2 separate regions of the Homo sapiens genome follow, and region 1 is linked to region 2. Evidence: fine-mapped expression QTL. A gene starts in region 2. The other region holds a variant in brackets. All regions are shown on one strand. Distances are between the middles of the regions.

Region 1 (8,338 bases), 810 kb after region 2:
CCCTTCTATACAAGCAGTGCCCACTACAGTGTGGAGTTAGTGAGGGCCCAATAAGCATGGAGTGGTTGGGTGAGTGGTTGACCCGTGGGTTGGAGAGGAGAATCAGGAGGGCTCATGCCCTCTCTTCCTTGTACAGAGATCCCTTAGAACACATGCAGCACACACACCTCAGATGCTGCCATCTCTTTAAGAGCTGATGTTGGGATTCTCCCTGATTCTTTCCCACTTCCTTCCCCAGTAGTTACTTGACCAGGAACACGTGGATTACATTTCACTTAAAAACACAGAGGGAATTTCAAATTAGCAGGAAACATGTTTGGCAAAAACTAAAATACTTTGCAAACCATCTGGGATGTTCTCTTGTTAGTACTGGAGCTGAGTGCCACTGTCCTCCATGGAGAAATGATTTTTTACAAAATCCACATTAGTTCCAAGACAAAAGGACTCTGCACACTTAAGCAAGACCAACGGGAGTGAATAATGTTGGCCTCACTATGTCTTGAGAAAGGAATTGGCAAGCAATTGTATGTAAAACGAAGGTGGGAGTTCAAGGACATTTTGGAGAGACTCACAGCAAGAACTATTGCATAAGGCGGCCATGTACCATTTCCAAATTATATAATAGTTACCATTACTGAGTATTTCCCATGTTCTAGCACAAGCACCTTACACCTTTACCACAAGTAATCCTCCCAACAACCACATGAAATAGGTCCTATTATTGTCCACATTCCAATTAAAGGAAACTAACAATTAGCTTAAATAATTTTCCCCCAGGCCACACAGCTGGTAAGTGTTAGAGGCAGGGCTCAAACCCAGATCCAGGACTAGCTAACTCCGGGCTCTGTGCCTCCTACCATTATTCTACACTGGACTCCCCATAAGTTTCCCTGTGGCATTAGTTATGTTTCCCATGCCCTTTGAGTACAGCAGTGCTGGGCATACGGTAAGCATGCAATAATTACTTATTTCCTCATTCATGTATTTAAAAATATGTATCAAAACTTACTATATGCTAGGCACCATGACAGGTGATAGGGATTCAATGGTGATGTAAGACTGGTGGACTTAAATTAATTTTTTAAAGGCATCATGGGATTTTGTATCGGCTATCTCTGTATCTAGAAGATGTCAGACTCATGGAAGTTTTGTCCATTTTATTCCCTTTGCTTATCCATTCTTTCTTGTTTACAGAAAGACTTAATTTTCTGTCTCATATCTCTGTCCTTCTTGCCCCACTATTTTTCCCCCTTCTCCAAAAATCCCAGCCCCAAAAACAGTCTACATATTGTGAAAAAGATTTCTCAAACCACAAGGGTGATGTAACTTTAGGCCTGTGTTTTCTCTCTCACACACACAAAATATTGGATATGAGTGAGATTTTAAAAAATTGGTTTTTAAATGTGATGAAAAGAGTGTCCTTTTCACCAGAACAAAACAACCCTTAATGCTGAAGCCTCCTTCCCGATATGGTTGGCTTCCAAATATGAAGAAATCTGTGCATTGGGCCACAGGCTCCAGACAAAGTCTGAGGACAAAGGAAACCTGTGGACTGGAAAGATCATCGATGTTTAGAATGAACTGGAGGCTCCCTCCAGGTTTTGGAGACTGTGGTTAAAGACATGGCCTATATTTCAATGGGCAGCAGCCCAGCAAGGCTCGTTTGTAATCCAGCTGATACGACAGGGTTTTTGCCATGGGAAGTGTTTGCATTTGAGCATTTCTCAGCCAGTCACTAGCCATCAATTACTTAGGAGTCAGATCTTGGCCAGAGGCCCCCGTTCCACAAAGTATGTCATTCTGTATTCACAGAAATGGAGTTTACAGTCCTGCCGCTAAATTAAAACTGGTGCTTCCAAATTAAAAGCAGACAGGACAGATGTGCAGGGAAGAAACGGAGACTCACATCTTTTGTGAATCAGCTAATCCTTGTGCCAGAACTTGAAATCAGCTTTTCCTGTAGAGGCCTCGACTACACCACACCTATGTAAGCTGCATTAAATGAGGTGGAATTAACATTTTACCAGATATTTCCTCTGCTCTGCCATCTGGACAAGGATAAAGAGCTCGGTGAAGCCCAGAATCCCAAAAACTGTGCAACATGAGAACATGGGGCCAGCACCTGAGGGTGGCCACATCTAGCCTGTCCCCTCATTGAGCAATATGAAGTCATGTAGGACACCAGAGGGTGGATGAAAAGCATGTGAACCAAGTATGCTGCTTCTAACGATTAACGGTTCAAGCACAATCTCAAAACTCCAGTGTCTGCACTCCTCTAGGGAAAATGATAAAAAATACGATTTTCACTATTCTGCCTGCTCCGTTAATCACCTCATGATATAAATATTAGCTTTATTTTATAGGGCATTTATGATATTAAATTTGAAAACCTCAAATATGATCTGGCAAATTCATGCTTAAAAACCTTCAGTGGCTTCTCATAGCCCTCACGATTAAGAGCAGCTTCCTTGATTGGGTCACTAAAGCCTGCAGGGTCTGGTTTCCACCTCATGTAACACTACTTCTCTCCTCTACTCTGTGCTGCAGACACATTGACTTTCTTTCCATTTCTCCTGCACACCATATTCTCTTCCACTTCAAGTTGTTCCTTCTGCTGCAAAGCTTTTCCAGCCATCCTCTTTTATAACCTCATTATTAAGAAAAAAATTCACATACACACAATTCACCCACTTAAAGTGGACTATTCAGTGGTTTCAAGCATATTCATAGAGTGGTGCAAGCATCATTACATCTATTTCAAAACGTTTTTATCACCCTTTAAAAAACCCTTTTACCTATAAGCTTTCACTTTCCATTTTCCCTCAACCCTAGGAAATCATTAATCTACTTTGCATCTCTCTTCTGTCTCCTATTGCAGACATTCAAACAAATAGGATTATCCAATATGTCGTATTTTGTTTATGACTTCTTTTACTTATCATAATGTTTTCAAGGTTCATCCATGTTGTACCGTGGATCAGTGTTTTTTTCTTAGTCATCACGTAATATCCTATTGTATGGATATACCACATTTAGTTTATCCATTCACAAGTTGATGGACATTTGAGTTACTTTCATTTTTTGACTATTATGAACAATGCCGCTATGGGCATTCATGTACAAGCTTTTGTATGGATGTATGTGTTTATTTATCTTGGGTTTATACCTAAAGATAGAACTGCTAGGTGATAAGGAAACTATGTTTAACATGTTGAGGCAACCACCATAATTTTAACTAATGTTAACTACCACTCATGCTTTGAGTTTCAACTGAAATGTAACTTCCTCACAAATGCATCCCTGTCCCTTCCACTTCCTCCTAAGGTCTCCTGCTAAATGTCTCTCATACATACTGTACCTTTTCTTCATTGTCTTAGCCTAGTTGGTTGGTATGTATTTAGGTACATAATGATTTTATATATGTCTGTCTCTCCTCTTAGACTATAAGTTAGATGGCCCTTTAGCTCATGGCTATATCCCCAAAACTCTTACTAAGGCACTGTGTCAGCCAGTCTTCAAAATGCCCTCCAAGGATTCCACCTCCTGGCATTCATGCTTTTATGTATACCTTCCCCTGGGTGCAAACTTGTCTCAGTGATGGACAAATAAAATAGGAGCTTGGAGACTAGGTTTTCTCTCTCTCTCTCTCTCTCTCTCTCTCTCTCTCTGTCTCTCTCTCTCCTTGCTTTAGGGGAAACCAGTGGTTAATTCATACTGACACTGTATAGAGAGCCCCATTTGGCAAGAAGCTAAGATCTTTTGCCAATAGCCATGTGAATGAACCATCTTGGAAGTAGTTCCATCAGCCCCAGTCAAGCTTTCAGATGACTGCAGCCAGAGTCCACATATTAATGGCAACCTCTTTAGGGATCCTAAGGCAAAACCATCCAGCTAATTCCTTGAATTCATGACCCATAGGAATTGTGGGATAATAAATGTCTGTTGTTTTAAGTTATTAAATTTCGAGGGTAGTTTGTTATACAGTAATAGAAAATGAGCATAGTTATGCTGCCTGGAACATAATAGAAGCTAAGTAAGTGATGAATGAATAAGTAAAGGAATAAACACCCTAGGCTTCTCAGAAATAAAGAGAGTAAAGGCTACACTTATGAACACTTCCTAGATGTTAACTGTATGGGCTGAATGTTTATGTCCCCTGCCAAATTTATATATTGAAGACCTAACCCCCAATATGATTGTACTTGGAAGTGGAGCCTTTGGGAAGTAAGATGGTTAACATTAAGTCATTATGGTGGGACTTTCATGCAAGGATCAGTGCTCTTATAGGAAGAGGAAGACAGAGATCTCTCTCCCCGATGTGCATGCACTGAAGAAAGACCATGTGAGCACACAGCTGGAACGCAGGTATCTACAGCCGGAAAGCAGACTCTCACCAGGAACCAAATCTGACAGCAGCTTTATCTTGAACTTTCCAGCCTCTAGAACCATGAGAAATAAATGCTGCTTAAATCACCCAGTCTATGGTATTTTGTTATAGCAGTTCAAGGTAATTAATACAGTGTTTATATCAGAATCTCATTTAGTGATCACATCAATCCTCAATGGTACAAACAATGACATGCATTTTACTGGTAAGGAAACTGAGGCCCAAAAAAATCTAGGAATCAAGAATCAGCCCATGTGGCTTTTGATGGGCTAAAGCATGAAAAAAATCATACCATGCTCCCAGCTGGCAGTGAAGACAACTCACTCAACCA[C/T]TCAATGTAACTTTCAGAAGTTCCAGGACCTGAAGCAAGATGCAAGATGAAAGATCACTGAGATAGAACCTTACCATTTCATTTCCAACTTTATTGCTTAATTTAATTATTAATATATATTTTTAATTTTTTATTAAGGTGAAATTCATATAACATTAAATTAATGCCTTTAAAGTGTACAATTCAGTAGCATTTAGTACATTCACAATGTTGTGTAACCATCATGCCTCATTAGTTCCAAAATATATGAATTTATTTTAGTCCTTGGTGCAGAGGATTGAATTTTAGTGACACACCTTAGGTCAAGGCATATCAATATCTTCATCAGGGCAGGGCCCTTTCTTCAAGTCACTTATTTATGCCTCCCCTTCATCCTTCATCCCAGGAGCTATAGCCCCAACCACACTAACATGTCTAATGCCTTCCTTCTTGTTTACCTGTGCTTTGTTTAATAAAACCCTCTTGGCTTTCCAACTTTGATCTTTCATTTTCCCTTAACATTAAGAAAATAACAGGGCTTTACAATTCATCTATCTTAAGGAGGCAGCTTTGCTTTTGTAGAAAAAGTGCCAAATAAAGAGTCAAGGATCCTTTGTTCCAAACTAGAGTTCCACAAATTATCACCCATGGGTCAAATCCAGCCTTCAACCTGTTTTATAAATAAAAGTTGTTGGAATACAACCATGTTTCTTTTTTTACGTATTGTCTGTGGCTGTTTCCTTACCACAATGGCAGAGTTGAGTAGTCGTGACAGAGCCTGCAAAGTCCACAAAGCCTAAAATATTTACCATCTTGCCCTTTACAGAAAAGGTTTGCCAAGCCCTGCTCCAAACCACAGTCTGTCACCTATAACTCTTCATATGATCAGATGAATCTGTTCACTCCCTGGGCCTTAATGTCTAGTTCATAAAATCGAGGCCATGATACTAAAACTATAGTTTTTATTTCTCTCTCTCTTTTGTTTCTAACCTTCTTTTTCTCTGTGTTATGTAGTAGAATACATTTTTAAAACAAAATATTTATGTGCAAATCTACTACAGAAAGTACAGAAGTAGTTTCTCTGGTAGAAGAAGATTGGGACCCTACAATCCTGCCTGGCTAGCTTTAGCCATCCCAGTCTCTCCATCAGCCTCTGAGGTGCCATATTGATATGCCAGGCCCATGAAAAACTCCGTGAGAAAGCAACCCACCCCTTGGATACTTTTAACGTCAGTTCCCTTTCATAGCATCCTGTTGTTATATGGTAGTACAGAAAGTGATGAATTTTGGAATTAGGTCAAATTCCAACTCTAACATTTGCTGTGTAGCTTGAACCAGTCACTTTAACCTCTCTGAGCCTCAGTGTGCTCACTTGCTTGGGAAAATGGAGATAAATAGTCTGGACATCACATGCTGGTTGTAAGGATTAAAGACCCCAATTATTTCTAGAATACCTGGCATAGAAATCTGCATTCAGTGAATTGTAGCTACAAAGGATACAAAATAATTTTTGTGTGAGGGAATCCATGTGATACTTTTTTGGGTGTGAACTCAATTTGAATCTTCACTTTTTGGACACTGACACTGAGGCTGGAAAGGTCAGCCTTTTTATTGTAATAGAAATCTGTTACTTATGTGCTATGATTTGGGGACACTTCCGAATATCTACCCCTGCCTCCAAATGGCATCTACCATGCCCGGCTGAATGCTTGACACCCACCATAGTAGTCAGCAGACCCTGGGCTGAGACAGTGCCTCTTTAAAGAGCCATAAAAATCCCAGACAGAAATAAGAGGTTAAGCCATTGTCTTCTGCAAGGATTTAGCTTGAATCAATCAATTTTCAGGTTTAAGCCTTTGAAGGAAAGAGGCATAAATAAGGCTTAGAAAAGGCCAAAATGTGTAATGACTTCCAGAGAACAAACAAAAGTCAACTGCAGAGGCCTCCCAAGGAGAATGGAAAGGCCTCTGGATGGGGAGACACCCTGTGTTGAGTCAACCTCACCTCTTCCAGGCTGTGTGACTTGAGGCAGTCTCTTAACCTCTCTGAGCCTCCACTTGATATCCAAAATTAAGGCCAATAAGACTGACTGGCCTCCAGGGTGACGGTGAGTGTGAATGCCTGGTTCCAGTCCTGGCACAAAGCAGGCACCGGGTTAAGGCTTCCTGAATGAATCAGTGCAGCATCACACTAGATACTATGAAAGTAGTACTTGAACATCAAAAATGATCATGTAACCTTGAAACAGGCATTTGATGGAACACCAGAGAATGGAGCATCAAGGAGTTGTGGATCCACCTGAAGGCACTGGAAAAGGAAAATGGGGCACAGAAAGGTAGGGAAAGGTTGATAAAGGTGAGGGACAAACGTTAACTACTAAGAGAACCTGGGACCCACCACAGTCTGTGGTGTGGAACAACCAGTGGTTTGATCCAAGTCAGAATTGCATTGAATCATGTCAGACGGGCACCGAATCAAAAGTAGTACTCTCACAAGAGACAACAGGCACTAACCATGTGCCAGCCACAGTGTAAGCATGCCATGCACATTGCCATTTAATGCTTTTACAGCAGTGTGATTTCGGCAGTTAGCCTAATTTACCATAAAGGCCGTTTCCTGTGCAGTAGGCTTTGGGTTCCTGAACTTGCTGTGGCTGATGGACTATGAAAAGAATTGCCAAGAGAGAAAAGAGCCATGGTACCCCCTTCCCCATCTCTTTCTCTGCTGTGATGAACTGGAACCAACTGCTGTGGGTTGATTGACATAGTGATGTCAGAAGAAGAAAAGATCCCAGGTCTCCGAGTCTCCTGAAATAGAAGAAATTTCTCCATCTGCATGAGTGAGAAATAAATGTTTATGGTCCTAATCCACTGAGATGCCAAGGTTTATTTTACATTGGAGGATTACATGGAACCCATCCCGCCAAACACAGCAGCTAACATTTATTTAGTGCTTGCTACTACTTGAAAAACTTCATATATTTTTAAAATTTCATTTCATTCTCACTTTCATTTTACACGTAAAGAAGAGAGTAAATTATCTGAGAATATGAGAATATACAGGATGTACCAGAGCCTGAATTTGAACCTAGGCATTCCGGCACCAGAGCTGCCTTCTGCTTTTTTTTTTTTTAGACAGAGTCTTGCTCTGCTCTGTTGCCCAGGCTGCTTGCTGGAGCGCAGCGGTGCAATCTCGGCTCACTGCAACTTTTGCCTCCCGGGTTCAAGCGATCCTCCTGCCTCAACCTCCCAAGTAGCTGGTTAAGCTGCTTTCTTATAGAAGGAAAAGTTGAGAAATTAAGGGACTTGCCTATCATCACAGAATATGGAAATGGCAGAGCCATGATTCAAAACCAGGTCTGTTTGGTTTTACATTATGGGAAAACCATTATGGGAAAGTCGCAGCCATTTTATGTTCTCTTCTTTGCAGTTTTGGTCCAGTAGGTCCACTCACTGTCCAGCATGCAAGATGTGAAAACGCTCTAAAAGTTGAGAGGAGGTGTTTCCAGCCACTGCATCAGTGTAAGAGTTGGCAGGGGCTGTCTGGCTTGCCTCGTGCTCAAATCCCCATTTGCTGTGGAGGCCACAGATGCTCTGGCCTGACAGTAAGACAGCCCCTCTTTTGGACAGCACTTCCCACCA
Region 2 (8,338 bases):
ATGCATACTGAGATTTTATATATATATGTATATATACACACATACATATATGCGCATATATATACACATATTTATATCTATATATATCTCAAATCTGGCAGTCGGAAGTATATGAAGATAAAAAGTGAGCTATCCCCACATCTTTCCTTTCTCTCCCAAACCCACTCCTGACTTAACAATGTCACTACTTTATTTTTACCTGTAGGTGGATGAAGTGATGACAAAAGAAATTAAGCTGCCAACAGAAATGGAAGGAAAAAAGATGGCAGTGACCCGGACCAGGACAAAGCCAGTGCCCTTGCACTGCGATATCATCGGGGATGCTTTCTGGAAGGAACATCCAGAGATTCTAGATGAAGACAGCTGACCCTTTTGCGCTTCAGTTCTGGTGTGCTTAACCATGCAAGCCCTCCCACCTCCCAGGGCTCCTTGCCTTAGGTGGCTGTAGCATCCCTACCACCCAGGACACTGGTGCGAATGACACAACTCAAGTTGGGAGGGGAACAGGGAAGGAAGGGATGGATGGGGGTGGTGTATCTTACTCTGTTTAAGCAGAACACCTTGTTTGCGGTGTTGGAACATGGTTCCTTTGGCAGAAGTGCTTTTTTTTTAATCGCAGTACTATTTTTATAAAGCAAGAACTATTCCATGCCTTGGAGAATGAATCATTTTTAGATTGTGACATAAATCTTGTAAAAACCTGTCAGTTATTTTCATCTATGAGAGAAGAGGAGCCCAAACTCTCGCCCACCTGTTCTTAACCAGAAAACCCACTGACTTTGAAAATCTCACCTCTGCCACCCATCTACTTGCATTCGTCTTTGGCAGACCTCAAGATAAATATGGGTTAATGCCTGCATGATGCCTCTGAATTCAGGAATTGCAGGGAAAACTCGGGGCTTTGTGCCAGTCTCTAAGTTGGCAACTTTGGCTGAACAAATGAGTAGTGGCTTCAGTGTCCTTGCGTACACATTCTGTGGATTGATTTAATGGAGTTGTCAGCATGATCATCATCTTCTAGCCAGGGGCATAGTTGCCAAGGCCATTTACCTCTTTCTAAGAAGAAACAGAATTATGTGTATATATGAGAGAAAGAAACAAGAATGCGTGAATGAGGATGAAGAAACATTTACCCCATGTACTCAAGACATTTCAGTTTTAAAAGTCACTTTCCTATTAGACTTCTTGAAAAACATTCTCACATAGCCTCTATGTAATCAGACAAATGACATTTGATTTCAAGAGCAGAGGGGTAAACATCCTCTGCTAATCGACAGGTAGCAGGTGTCAGAGGAGGCATAATATTAATAGCGCCACCTTCTGTTGGGTCAGTGGAGATGGGTGAGGAACAGCACAGAGCAGCAGGGATCATCACATGCAGCCAAACTTGGCCTCTGAAGGGGGAAGGTAGTGGGAATAGGTGGTGAGAGAACTCACATTTTTCTCTTGTCCTGGTTTTATATTTCGGAGGGAAAGGATTATTTGGCCCCATTAAGAATTAAGAGGCTGGGTGCGGTGGCTCACGTCTGTAATCCCAGCACCTTGGGAGGCCCAGGCAGGCAGATCACCTGAGGTCGGGAGTTCGAGACCAGCGTGACCAACGTGGAGAAACCCCCGTCTCTACTAAAAATACAAAAAATTAGCTGGGCATGGTGGTGCATGCCTGTGATTCCAGCTACTTGGGAGGTTGAGGCAGGAGAATCATTTGAACTCAGGAGGCGGAAGTTGCGGTGAGCCAAGATTGTGCCATTGCACTCCAGCCTGGGCAACGAGCGAAACTACATCTCAAAAAAAAAAAAAAAAGACATGGCTGGGCATGGTGGCTCACACCTGTAATCCCAGCACTTTGGGGGGCTGAGGCAGGTAGATCACTTCAGGCCAGGAGTCCAAGACCAGCACGTCCAACATGGCAAAACCCAGTCTGTACTAAAAATAGAAAAATTAGCTGGGCGTGGTGGCGTGTGCCTGCAATACCAGCTACTCAGAAGGCTGAAGCAGGATAATTGCTTGAACCTGGTAGGTGGAGGTTGCAGTGAGCTGAAATCATGCCACTGCACTCCAGCCTGGGTGACAGAGCAAAACTGCCTTAAAAAAAAAAATTAAGAGACAGCCCGTGTCCCAGTCCCTCGTCTTGCACTGCAGAATTTACATCTAAGAAGAAAATGTATTTTTGAAAGGGTGATGGCTGGCCTCATCCCTCACTAATTGACAACCCATCTGTCGATGCCATTTTTTCCCTTCCTGTTCTCACTCCACAGAAAGAGGAGATACGGTTCTTGTTTGGTAATTGCTAAAATCTCTTTGAGGAAAGAAATAAAGATGTCAACTCCTTTGGCCTGCTTTTTCATTTATTTTTCTTAGACAAATAGACTATATGAAATCTAACTTTTGTGTATATCTCTGGGTAGCCTAGGATACACATGCCCTCATCATAGCAGTGGTTCACAAACTTCTGGATGCAAAAAAAAAAATTACTTGGAATGCTTGTTTAAAATGCACATTTTTGGCTCCTCCCAGCCCCCAGAAAGGTTTGAAGCTCAACAATCTTTTTTTTTTTTTTTTTTTTTTTTGAGATGGAGTCTCGCTCTGTCAGCTCACTGCAACCTCTGCCTCTCAGGTTCAAGTGATTCTCCTGCCTTAGCCTCCTGAGTAGCTGGGACTACAGACACGCACCACCATGCCTGGCTTAATTTTTGTATTTTTAGTAGAGACGGGGGTTTTCACTACATTGGCCAGGCTGGTCTCGAACTGCTGACCTCGTGATCCGCCCGCTTCAGCCTCCCAAAGTGCTGGGATTACAGGTGTGAGCCATCACGCCCAGCCAGCAATCTGATTTTTAGCCCCAAAGGCTTCTGATATGTGTGGTTGTCAATATACAGCAGCTTCGGCAGCAAGGCCCTCGGTATACTGTGATAGGCTGGGTGGGAAGGAAGTAAGATAATGTAGCTGTTGATTGGCAATTTTAACTTAATGGTAAGTTGACAGCATTTTATATCAAAATACAAGTAGGCATTAGAGTACAAATTTTCAAGAAAACCACCCAGAGAAACGTGCTTTCTGTGGGTCTTAAATGACACTATAAAGGCTATCACTCAGTTTTGCCATATGATGTGGGGATGAGCGCTCATTTGTTGAATTGCCAGCAATTCTGCAGCTTTGAGTTTTTTATTCAGGCAGGGGGTTTTGAACAAAGTGATAAGCTGGGTTCAAAACCTGTGCCATAAAGAAACCTGTACTGCTACCAATTAGAAGCCACTGTTTGATGGTTTTTGTTTTTTTTTTTTTTTTGAGATGGAGTCTCCCTCTGTCACCCCAGCTGGAGTGCAGTGGCGCGATCTCAGCTCACTGCAACCTCCGCCCCTCCAGGTTTAAGCAATTCTCTGCCTCAGCCTCCAGCGTAGCTGGGATTACAGGCGCGTGCCACCACGCCCGGCTAATTTTTTGTATTTTTAGTAGAGACGGGGTTTCACCATCTTGGCCAGGCTGGTCTTGAACTCCTGACCTCGTGATCCACCCGCCTCGGCCTCCCAAAGTGCTGGGATTACAGGCGTGAGCCACCGCGCCCGGCCTGCTTGATGGTTTTGTCTTCGCTGTAGTATGCATTCATCCCAAGGTATATTTCAGAGTTGTATATTAATTTTCATCTTGCTCTCTAAGGTACTCTCCAGTATTCTCTTGGACTTCCTAAGTCTTAAGGAAACTGAAATGTACACAAAGCAACTAGTACAGAGAATACTAGTTGATGGCAGTTTGAGAATGTGGTGACGGGCAAGTGATGTGTGGCCTGTAGGTGAGTGGAAACATTTTGGCTCTGCTGGATGAGAAGGTTATATCTGGGCCTTCCGCGAAGAGTAGACTGTCATTTTAAAATCAACCAAAAAATATTTTGCCGAACTGAGACTATAAAGTAGCAAGTGGTATGATCAGGTCTTGGGAATTTTCCATAGTTTCCTCCAAGAGCTGGATCTTCGTTTCTTCCAATTGGTTAGCAATGCTTAGAAAGACAGTGATATAATGAATTTTCTTTGATACTAAGCACAAATTTGTTTATGCACAGGGTATAGGAAATGGAGGACAGACACCCAGTATTGGCTGACATGCATCTATTATGAGCTCTGTAGGCAGTATCTCTCCATCCTGAGGTCAGTTCTATAAGGTAGGTGCTATTTATATCATATTTCAGACGAGAAACACGCTAAATACTTTGAGCCCAGATAGGCTATTCTTCCCACCCTATCAGTAGTACTCAGCATGGAAGCAAACTGAGACATTCATTGCCTTCCTCCAGACGCTTCCTGCCAGCTCAAGCTAGGATGCGATCCCGAGCTCATTCCCGGGGAACCCAGAGTATTAACAAACACCCTAAGTGATAATGATACAGACGGGGAAACTGCGCTGGAGCAGGTCAAGCAGCAGTCGACAGCGTTAACCTGTCAGCTATGGGAGGAGGCGGTGCGAGGCGCGGGCTGGTCGGAGCCGCGTACCACGCCCCCCGGCCCGGGTGGAACGAGGACAGGTGCTGCCCTCCCGCGGCCGCTTCGGCGCAGTGCAACCCCGCGCCGCGGCTGCGCAGTGCCGCCCTCTGGCGGCTTCGTTCCTTCTTCCCATCGGCCTCGGCTTGCGGGCCTTTCAAACATGGAGGAGCGGGAGCGGGGGGCGAGGTCGGCTGGCGCCGGGAGCCCCGCGCGCCCGCCCAGCCCGCGGCTGGATGTCAGCTCTGACAGCTTCGACCCGCTGCTGGCCCTGTACGCGCCCCGCCTGCCTCCCATTCCCTACCCCAATGCCCCCTGCTTCAACAACGTGGCGGAGTACGAGAGCTTCCTCAGGACCGGAGTCCGGGGCGGCGGGCGCGGGCGCGGGCGGGCTCGGGGCGCGGCCGCGGGCTCTGGGGTTCCCGCCGCACCCGGGCCCTCGGGCAGGACTCGTCGCCGCCCGGACGCGCCCGCCCCGGACCCCGAGCGCATCCAGCGCCTCCGCCGTCTCATGGTGGCCAAAGAGGAAGGGGACGGGGCCGCAGGAGCGGGCCGGAGGGGTCCGGGTCGGAGCAGGAAGGCGCCACGCAACGTGCTCACGCGAATGCCCTGTGAGTCCGCGGGCCGGGCGGGAAGCGGGGCAGCCGCCGTCCGGAAGCTGGCTGCCGAGGGGGCGTCTGCGGGGCGGCGGTGGCCGGGCGCGGGTCTGCACGTATTGCGGGAGCGCCTTGGTGAAAATTTGCGGGGATCATCAGTGACTATGGGGTGGATCTGCTTGAGTAATGTGGGTAATGAGGGCGTGGGGAGGGTCACCCTGAGTAAGAAAAGGGGCTGTAGGAGCAACAGAGGGAGAGTGGTAAGGCTGTAGTGGTCATAAGAAGCCGTGGGAAAGGTCTTCAGCGGTAATCGGGGCCCATGGAAGGGTCACAGAGGTGATGAGCCTGCCGAGAGGGTCTACAGGATTGATGGAGGACCTGGAGAGGTGGCGGGGCTACAGAGTTTGGGGGACATCATAGGGACGTCTACAGAGGTGATGAGAGGTCTTAGAGACCACAGTGAGAGGTAAGGTGGGGCGGAAAACGGGAGACGTGGGGGAGCGCACAGCCAATATTAGGGGAAGGAGAGTATTTGGTCAGTGGGATTTGAGGATGATCGGATGGAGTGTGGGGAGATTTGTTCAGATAGCACAGGCGCATAATCCCATAACCCCTGTACATTGACAGCTCCTTCTCGAGTGCGATAAGCAGAAGGGCTGCAGAGTCTTGATACACATATGTTCACATTACTAAGTCACAAGTGCTGAAATGCAGCAGGCACAGAATGCCACTAAAACACAGACGCTGTTTTACAGCCACTCTGCCTGGCTGGGTGCAGGACTGTGTCTGTCAGGCTCATATTACCATATGTGCAGGTTATTTTAAGTTCTAAAGGTGTAAATGGCACAAGGGAATTTCTTGGAGCCTCCTCATAGATCCTTAGAGTAAAGCTGTAAACAGCAGAGGCTCTAATGTGTGAGTTAGGTCTTGTATAAATGGAATAAAAACAGCCTAAGGTTATCTCTTTTGTCATCTGGCAAGCAGTTCTGACATCTGCCCTGTGAACACAATGACCTACTTAGCCATTCAAAGCATCTGTATCCTGATAATTAAATTGTTACCTTATTAAGTCACTGTCTTTTGGATGGAGAGGTGTGCCAAGCAAGGGACTGTTTTGCTTCATTCCTAGAAATTTGTTTATTAAGAGAGAACATCCTGAAACGCTCTGTGCTGTTCCGTGTGCCTTCGTTGGATGTCTTACCATGCCACAGCATCCCTGCCCAAGCTAGGATTTACCCCGGCCTGCTTGCCTGGCTGTAACACAAAGACAGTATGCTTGTTCCCAAAATGAGAGCAGTTTGGGGGACCTTAATTTGCCTATGCAATTTGCCACCATTAGGTAGTTGAAATGCACTCCAAGTCTCATTGCAACATTTATTTCTATTTTACCAGTTATTGCTTTGCTACCAAGATTGTCAAGGGAAAGGAATATTCCTGTGTATTGCTATGTGGTGGGTGGTTTTAGCTTTCCCTATAGAGCACTTTACTGTAATGGTATGACAGTGTGTGAAGACCAGCTTTGTCAACTTCTTATGATTAAGTATATATCCCTGGAATCAAGATCTCAGAGAATATGCCCTACATACTGAAAATTTTCACCATGGCACTGCAGACAGTTGAGTGTACATGAGAGAAAGGCATTGACGTCGCACAGAGTTGATGACCTTCAGAAAGCAAGAAAACAACAGAAACATGGGTGAGGATTGGATTCATTCAAGAAAGAGTTCCTACTTGAGGGTGAAGGGTGGGAGGAGGGTGAGAATCACAAAACTACCTATTGGGTACTGTGATCACTACCTGGGTGACAAAATAATTTGTGCACCAAACCCCAGTGACACACGATTTACACCTGCAACAAACCTTTCGTGTACCTCCTGATCCAAAAACAAAAGTTGGAAGGGGGGAAAAAAAAGAACTAGGTATGTTTTATATGTATGCCACAGTTTTAATTTAAAAAAATATATGCCTACTCTAAACTCTGATTGGATACAGTTGCTCAGGAAAATCAAAATATAGATACCAGTAAGATAATACTATTTGTGGACATATACAAATGCTTTCTGGAAAAAAATGCCTATGCATTTGAGAATGCATAATCCTTTGCAAAATATTCACATAAAATGTAAGTTCCATCAGGCTGTAACAGCAAGAAGAAGCTTTGTTAGGTCATATCATCAGTGAAACATAATGAAGAATACATGAGGAGCTACATTTTGTCGCTGACTTTAAAATGATGTATTTCATCAATTCAGATCCAAGTTACCCATCCAAATTCACAGAGAGGACAGTGTGGAATGTTTATGAAAAAACAAGGAGTGCAAAATTAAGTGTAATGGTGTTTTAACTGTAAAATATTTCACTTTGTATCTCTGTCATAGAATCTCTTTGAATTCCCTTGTGGAGCAGTTGTATTCTTTTCCTTGCAGTAATAAAATTTTAAAAGTAGCCAGGCACAGTGGCTCACACCTGTAATCCCAGCACTTTGGGAGGCCGAGGCGGGCAGAACACTTGAGGCCAGGAGTTCAAGACCAGCCTGGCCAACGTGGTGAAACCCTGTCTCTACTAAAAATACAAAAATTAGTTGGGCATGGCAGCATCTGCCTCTAGTTCCAGCTGTTCAGGAGGATGAGGCACGAGAATCGCTTGAACCCTGTAAGTGGAAGCTGCAGTGAGCCGAGATCATAGGGACATCATAGAGACCTCTACAGAGGTGATACGAGGTCTCAAAAAAAAGTAATAATAAAAGTATAGGAGGCTGTTGCAATACTGGGAATACTAAAGAAGAAAAAAAGCATAGGAGGAAAGGTTTTTCGTCATCATTAAGCCTAAGCCATCACTGATACCAACAAAGAACTCACACACAAGCTGTACTTGCAAGTGGAATGCAATTGCTTTTCCTCCTTTTTAATATTGACATGCCTATAGAGATGGTAAGACAAGACTAAAGAGCATTATCCTCTTTTCCACATAATTCTAGTGTCTATATTTCTCCTTAGTATCGCAGCACCATACCTAGCCCACGGTGGTTCTGGTTTATAATTGTGCTTCAAGCAAGCTTTTTCTAGGTATATCTGTCACTGTGAAATGAACTGGTGTGTTCAAGCTCACGTCTTGACATTATAAAGCTGTAAGAAAAAGTGTTATCATTACTTTGTTTTAGCTACAGGTGTGTTGGTGTGCAGCCTGTGCCGGTGTGAACAAGTGTGTGTGGTCAATCCAAAATGCATATGACATGCAGGGTTTGGCTCCTAGACCATTGTCTAGGTGAAT

Direction of the effects. Alleles are on the strand shown, and positions count from the first base shown. SD is a standard deviation of normalised expression in the study named.
For the expression in lymphoblastoid cells of the gene that starts at base 4,597 in region 2, C is the high allele of the variant in region 1 and T is the other (large effect, 0.80 SD a copy in GTEx).

What was found.
Region 1: its variant is fine-mapped to the expression of LSM11 in lymphoblastoid cells (GTEx, PIP 0.96).

Annotation. Positions count from the first base shown.
Region 1 is chr5:158,551,990-158,560,327 of GRCh38, forward strand. No RefSeq gene overlaps it. Among named protein-coding and RNA genes, the nearest start is that of LINC02227, 150 kb to the left of the region's middle. RefSeq lists enhancers at 8,100-8,269, 8,280-8,329. The variant C/T (reference allele first, on the strand shown) is at 4,719.
Region 2 is chr5:157,739,116-157,747,453 of GRCh38, forward strand. LSM11 (LSM11, U7 small nuclear RNA associated) reads left to right here and starts at 4,597. Exons shown (of 4, transcript NM_173491.4): 1 at 4,597-5,083. The coding sequence starts at 4,636. It overlaps THG1L (tRNA-histidine guanylyltransferase 1 like), which reads left to right. Exons shown (of 6, transcript NM_017872.5): 6 at 206-2,334. The coding sequence ends at 367. RefSeq lists a silencer at 4,381-4,940 and an enhancer at 4,960-5,460.